Linked DNA regions of Homo sapiens: region 1 is linked to region 2. The links come from fine-mapping of genetic effects on plasma protein levels. Region 2 holds a variant in brackets. A gene starts in the other region. All regions are shown on their forward strands.

The links. A credible set is the group of variants that fine-mapping cannot tell apart. PIP is the chance, under the fine-mapping model, that this variant and not a neighbour inherited with it causes the effect. Protein levels are from antibody-based Olink assays in UK Biobank. Linkage for the fine-mapping came from a reference panel and not from the study's own genotypes, which makes the PIPs less certain.
Region 1: PTPRF starts here. The variant in region 2 is the best candidate, but not a certain one, in a credible set for the plasma level of the PTPRF protein (UK Biobank, PIP 0.51).

The regions. Positions count from the first base shown.
Region 1 is chr1:43,529,814-43,532,702 of GRCh38, forward strand. It overlaps PTPRF (protein tyrosine phosphatase receptor type F), which reads left to right and starts at 1,070. Exons shown (of 34, transcript NM_002840.5): 1 at 1,070-1,277. RefSeq lists a silencer at 1,781-1,850 and an enhancer at 1,916-2,488.
Region 2 is chr4:3,467,573-3,470,461 of GRCh38, forward strand. The region is part of intron 2 of DOK7 (docking protein 7); the gene reads left to right. Among named protein-coding and RNA genes, the nearest start is that of DOK7, 5.7 kb to the left of the region's middle. RefSeq lists an enhancer at 106-713. The variant A/AGT (reference allele first, on the strand shown) is at 1,491.

The DNA.
Region 1 (2,889 bases), not on the chromosome of region 2:
AGAAATTTCTAGGGTCATTATTTGAGTTTGGTATGAGAAGTCAGAAACTCAGTACTGACATTTAAATTACATTTAGAGGGCATTATCATGTCTTTAATTCCGAGGCCAATGTAAGGTTCACAGCTGGAATTGGTATAATATTGGGGTATTAGTCAGTCTCTGCTTGGGGTTGACACTAGGTCAGAGAAGTGGAGGGTGAACATGAGGATGAAGGGGCTTTGTGTGGAGTTTCTGCAAAGCCAGTCTTATCTTGGGTTCCAAGATTATTATTAAAGCTGGGTTGGTTTAGGGTCCTAAATGGTCTCAAGTTTGGGTGGGGTTTCAGGTCAGTATCTGTGTTTGGGGGTCCTTTTATGGTGACCCAATCCCAACTCTGGAATTGAGAATCGAATTCAGAGTGCATTGGTGTTGATCTGGGAATGGGAGAGCAGTACTGGAGTTTTATGTAAGGCTTGGGGTTCAGAAGAGAGATAACTGGGGTCCATAGCAAGGTAGCTTTTGGACTTTAGGGTTCATTTAGGGACTGGGGGCTGAGCATTAGTACAGGGTTCCATTTAAGGTCCAGCGTTGGTGCTAGCGTCACTATCAAGGTTAGGGCAAGTAGAAGTAATAAAGAGATTTAGAGTCAGAATTGGTATTTGGGATCAGTATAGAGGTTCACAACAAAATTACTACTTGTGCTAATTTGGGGGCAGATTAAGGGCTTTGGACTCAATATTGGGTTTAGGGCAAGGTGTGGGCTCAGTATCAGGTTCAGATCTGTATGGGGAGGAAATGGGGTCCTAGAGTGGTATTAGGTTCATGCTAGGGCTGGGAGCCACTAGAAGGATCTGGATGTAGTATCAGAGTTTGGTCTGTCTATGTTCATTATTGGGGTTCGGGTTCAATATTGAGGTTCCGGTCGGTTTCGACTTGGCGTTGGGTTGTGGCCTGTCTGGGCCTCAGCGGCTCCGCGGCTCTACGAGCGAGAGTGCACGAGGGGAGGGGCGCCGCCGGGGGCGCGCACGGCAGGGGCAGGGGCGCGGGCGCGAGCGCGAGGGGAGCGCGCGGCTGGAGCTGGCGCGGGAGCGGCGGGAGCGGTGGCGGCGGCAGAGGCGGCGGCTCCAGCTTCGGCTCCGGCTCGGGCTCGGGCTCCGGCTCCGGCTCCGGCTCCGGCTCCAGCTCGGGTGGCGGTGGCGGGAGCGGGACCAGGTGGAGGCGGCGGCGGCAGAGGAGTGGGAGCAGCGGCCCTAGCGGCTTGCGGGGGGACATGCGGACCGACGGCCCCTGGATAGGCGGTGAGTGACCCCCCGGCCCCCCACCAGCCCCCTCCGCTCCCGTCCCTTCCCCGCTCTCCTTGCCCTCCCCGCTAGTCCACCCGGCGGAGCTGGGGGCGGTCCCGGGGGGGACGAGGGCGCCGCTGAGGCCGGGCCGCGCCCCCACCTGCCGCGCCCGCAGCCTCGGCGAAGCCCCCCCTCCACGCCCCAGCCTGGCGGCTCCTCCCCGCTCACCCCGCGGCAGACGCGCCCCCAGCGCTGCTGGCTGGCTCGCTCCCCGCCGCCCCTCGCCGCCTCCCTCCCTCTCCACCGCACCTTAGCCGCAGCCCGCCCCCCCCACCCAGCGCAAAGTTTCCCGTTTGCGTTCTTGCTCCCCCTCATCGGTCCCGCCTCGTCCCCCCTTCTAGCGCGGACGCGCTCCGGGGGCGGCCCTCAGACCCCCCAGCCCCGGGCTCCGGGCGGGTCCAGGCCGCGCCCCCGCCCCCGCCGCACAGGCGCCCCCTCCCAGCCGGCGGGGGATCCGCAGCCGGCGCGCCCGGGTCTCGCTCGCGGCCCCGGCGCACGTGCGGTCCCGGGCTGCGCCGGGCGCGAGTTTGAAGCCCCCCCACCCCCTTCGTTCGCGAGCACGGGATGGGGAGGGGCCGAACGGGCTGTACCCGCCCCCAACCGGGTGCAACGCCCTGGAGGCCCTGGAGCGACCTGTCCCGTGAGGACGTGGCCACTCGGACCCTCTCCGAAAGTTCACTCAGTGGCCGCCCCGCGTCCCGTCCCGTCCCGTCCCGGCTCCCCATCGCCGTGCCGGCGTCTCTGTCTCGGCTGCTTTCTGTTTTCCTCGGCGTCTCTGCCTCCCCGTGTCAGTGCCTCCCAATCTCACGCCCCTGCAATCCCAGGGTCTCTCCAGCTGTCTCCATTCTTTTTCCCCAGGTCACTCTGTTCTTTCTCCCCAGGTCTCTCGATTCTGTCTCCCTGGGTCGTCTTGTTCCCTGTCCCTGAGTCTGTTCTCTCCGCTTGGGTCTCTCTATTTCCTCTCCCTGGGTCTCTGTCTCCCTCCTTAAGTCTCTGCCTCTTGTCTCTCACCCATCTCTTGGTGTCTCTGCACTCTCTGTGCTAGGCGCCCCCCCATTTCCCTGGAATGCTGCCCCTCTGGTTCTTCCACCCCGGAGGGGGAGGGGCTAGACTTTCTCCCCATTTCAAGCCCCCCTGCCCCCCAGTGCACGGCCCCTGAGTTGGAGCAGGTTGGGGGTGGGGAGCGCTACCTGCCTGAGCTGTGAAATGGGAGAGGGAGGCTGCCCCAGCCTGGGGGTTGTCTGGATCTCCCTGAGGGGCCACAGGGCAGGGCCGGGAGGCTGGATTAGGTTGAGGAAGGCTCCACTTTTGAAGGAACAGGGGCAGGGATCCAGAGCGATCTGGTGTCGGATCTGGCCTGAGAAGCAGGGAAGTGCACTGGGGTGAGAGGCGTAGAAAAGGATGTGGGGTGGTGGTTCCAGGCGGGTGCTCATGGGGAGGAATCTGCTGAGAAGGGAAGATCTGGTGGGGAATCCTTTGGGAGGCTTCGGGGATCTGAGGGATCCAGAAGAGAGTTCTGACAGGCTATCTAAGGAAATTTCTGTGCTTAGCTCCTTATTAACTCTTG
Region 2 (2,889 bases):
GTGTGAGGATGTACATGTGCACCTGTACACACCGTGGGAGCGTGTGCACGTGTGAGCAAGTGTGAGCATTTGGGTGAGTGTGTAAGAGTGAATGTGTGAGTGTGGGCTTGTGTGGCTGTCTTAGCTCAGGCGGCTCTTAGCGAATGCCACAGCCTGGGCGGCTCAGACGACAGCCAGTCACTGCTCACGGTTCTGGGGGCTGGAGGTCCAAGATCAAGGCAGCCTGGGTGTCTGGTGAGGATCCGCGTCCTGGGTGTCTCGTGAGGACCATGTCCTGCTGCATAGGTGGCGCTTTCTCTGTCCTTATATGGTGTAGGGGGAGGAAGCGCCCTGGGGCCCCCTCATCAGGTACTGGTCCCATTCTTGAGGCTCCACCCTGATGACCTCATCGCATCCCAAAGGCCCCACCACTAACCCATCGCCTTGGGGGTGAAGATTTCAACACTGGAATTTCAGATTCAGACCCCAGCACTGAGTGCATGAGTGCACGCTTCTGTGTGTGCACAAGCATGAGTGCAAGTGCATGACTGTGTCCACGTGTGTGTGCATGTGAATACCTGTGTGTGCAGGTGTGTATGCAAGTGTGTGTGTGCATGTGAATACCTGTGTGTGGGGGTGTGTGTGCACAAGTGTGTGTGTGTGCATGTGAATACCTGTGTGGGGGTGTATGTGTGCAAGTGTGTGTCCGCGTGCATGTGAATACCTGTGGGAGTGTGTGTGCACGTGTGCACATGCGTGTGAATACCTGTGTGTGCGAGTGTGTGTGAGCTCAAATGCTTGTCTGTGTGCGTGTGTCTGTGTGTGCAAGTGTGTGCCGGTGTCTGCATGGGCATGCAGCAGTGTGTGTGCCTGTGTGAATGTACATGTACGAGTGTGTGCCTGTGTGTGCATGTATGTGTGCCTCTGTGTACATGTATGAGTGTGCATGTGCGTGTGTGCGTGTATGAGTGTGTGTGACTGTGAGTGTATGTGTGTGTGCCTGTGTGAGCATGTATGAATGTGTGTGCTTGTCTGAGTGTGCGTGTATTGGTGTGTGCGTGCCTTTGTGTGTGCGTGTGTATATGCCTGTGTGTGTGCATGTATGAGTGTGTGTGCCTGTGTGCATGCCTGTGTGTGCATGTATGTCTGTGTATGTGTGTGTATGTGTGCGTGCCTGTATGTCTGCCTGTGTATGTGTCTGTGTGCGTGTGTGTGTGCATGTATGTGTGCCTGTGATCATGTATGTCTGTGTGTGCCTGTGTGTGTATGCATGGAGTGTGTGTGTGCGTGTATGTGTGTGCGCGTATGAGTGTGCATGCCTGTGTACGAGTGTGCCTGTGTATGTGTGCATGTCTGTGTGTGTATGTGTGTATGAGTGTGCGTGCTTTTGTGCACGTGTGAGTGTGGTGCCTGTATGAGTGTACGTGTGCCTGTGTATGCATGTGTGAGTGTGCGTGTATGAGTGTGTGTGCCTGTGTATGTGTATGAGTGTGCATGTCTGTGTGTGCATT[A/AGT]GTGTGTGTGCCTGAGTGTACATGTGTGTGCCTGTGTGTGCGTGCATGTATGTGTGCACACATTGTGTGTGTGCGTGTATGTGTCTGTGTATGAGTGTGCATGTGTGTGTGTGCGTCTGTGTGAGTGTGCATGTATGAGTGTGTGTGCCTCTGTGTGAGTGTGCGTGTGTGCCTGCTTGTTCCACATGGTCTCTGTGCCTTGGCCTCTCCTGGTGCCTCTTCCTCGTTTGTCTCCTTTCAGCATCACGACCCGGTGCCCTCCACCCAGCCCAGTGCTGCCTGCCAGAGCCCCGGGAACCCTCCAAGTTCTGCAAAAGCCTTCCCTGGCCAGGTTGCAGCCAATGCCCGCAGCCAGAGGGTGGGTGGGCAGGGCTGATGGTGGTTCCTCAGCCGCCAGGCAAGAGACCCCCAGCCGGAGGGTGGGTGAGCAGGGCCGATGGTGCTTCCTCAGCCGCTGGGTGAGAGACTCCCAGGTGCCCAGGCCTCCTGGGAGGGTGTGGCTGGGGCCCTCTGGGCCTGGCGCCCGGGGAGCTGGCCAGTGGCCATCCACTCCTGAGTCCCCCAGACCTGTGTCTACCCGGCACACGTGCTGTGTCCCAGGGAGAGCCGCTGCGTCCTGGGGCTCTGGTGTCCCGGCCTTGACCTGGCTTGGTCTCAGCCCTGGGCCTGGAGCTTCCATCTCTCTGGTACCAGTTCCTGCAGCGCTTTGCCCCCTGGCACTCCCCGAGAGATGCACTTTAAAAACAGGATCGATTTATTGTTGGTGATGAGGAGAGGGCGGCCTGAGCGTGAGGGGGTGGGCGTCAGCTGCCGGAGAAGCTTCTGCCAGGCAGGAGGGACGAGCGGGCCCCCAGCTCTGACCTCTCGGCTTCTGTTCATGTTTGAAAATGAAATCGGTGGTTTGGGTGGTCGTCAGTTTCCTGTGGCCGACAGAAGAAAGCACCACAGCTGGGCCTTCAAACAATGAGAATTCACCCACTGAGTCCTGGGAGTTAGAGCTCTGCAGTCGAGGGGCCCGTAGGGCCACGCTCCCTCCAGGCTTCCCAGAGGGGCTCCTTCCTGCCTCTCCCAGCTCCTGTTAGACACAGGTGTCCCTTGGCTGTGGCCTCAGCGCTCCAGTCCCTGCCTCCGTCCCCATTCAGGTGACCTTCCCTGTGTCTGCGCCTCCTGTTCTCCCCCTTACAAGGACACTTGCTGCTGCGTTCAGACAATCCAGGATCCTGAACTCGATTACATATGCAGAAACCCTGTTCCCAAATAAGGACATACAGGTTCCGGGGTCGGGAGTGGACACGTCTTGCTGGGGGCCACGCTCAGCCCCTGCCTGTAAGTGCTCCTGGATTTTCAGGCGTTCCCAAGGTGCAGGATGTGAGTCTGCATTTGTAGACAGAGTCCAGAA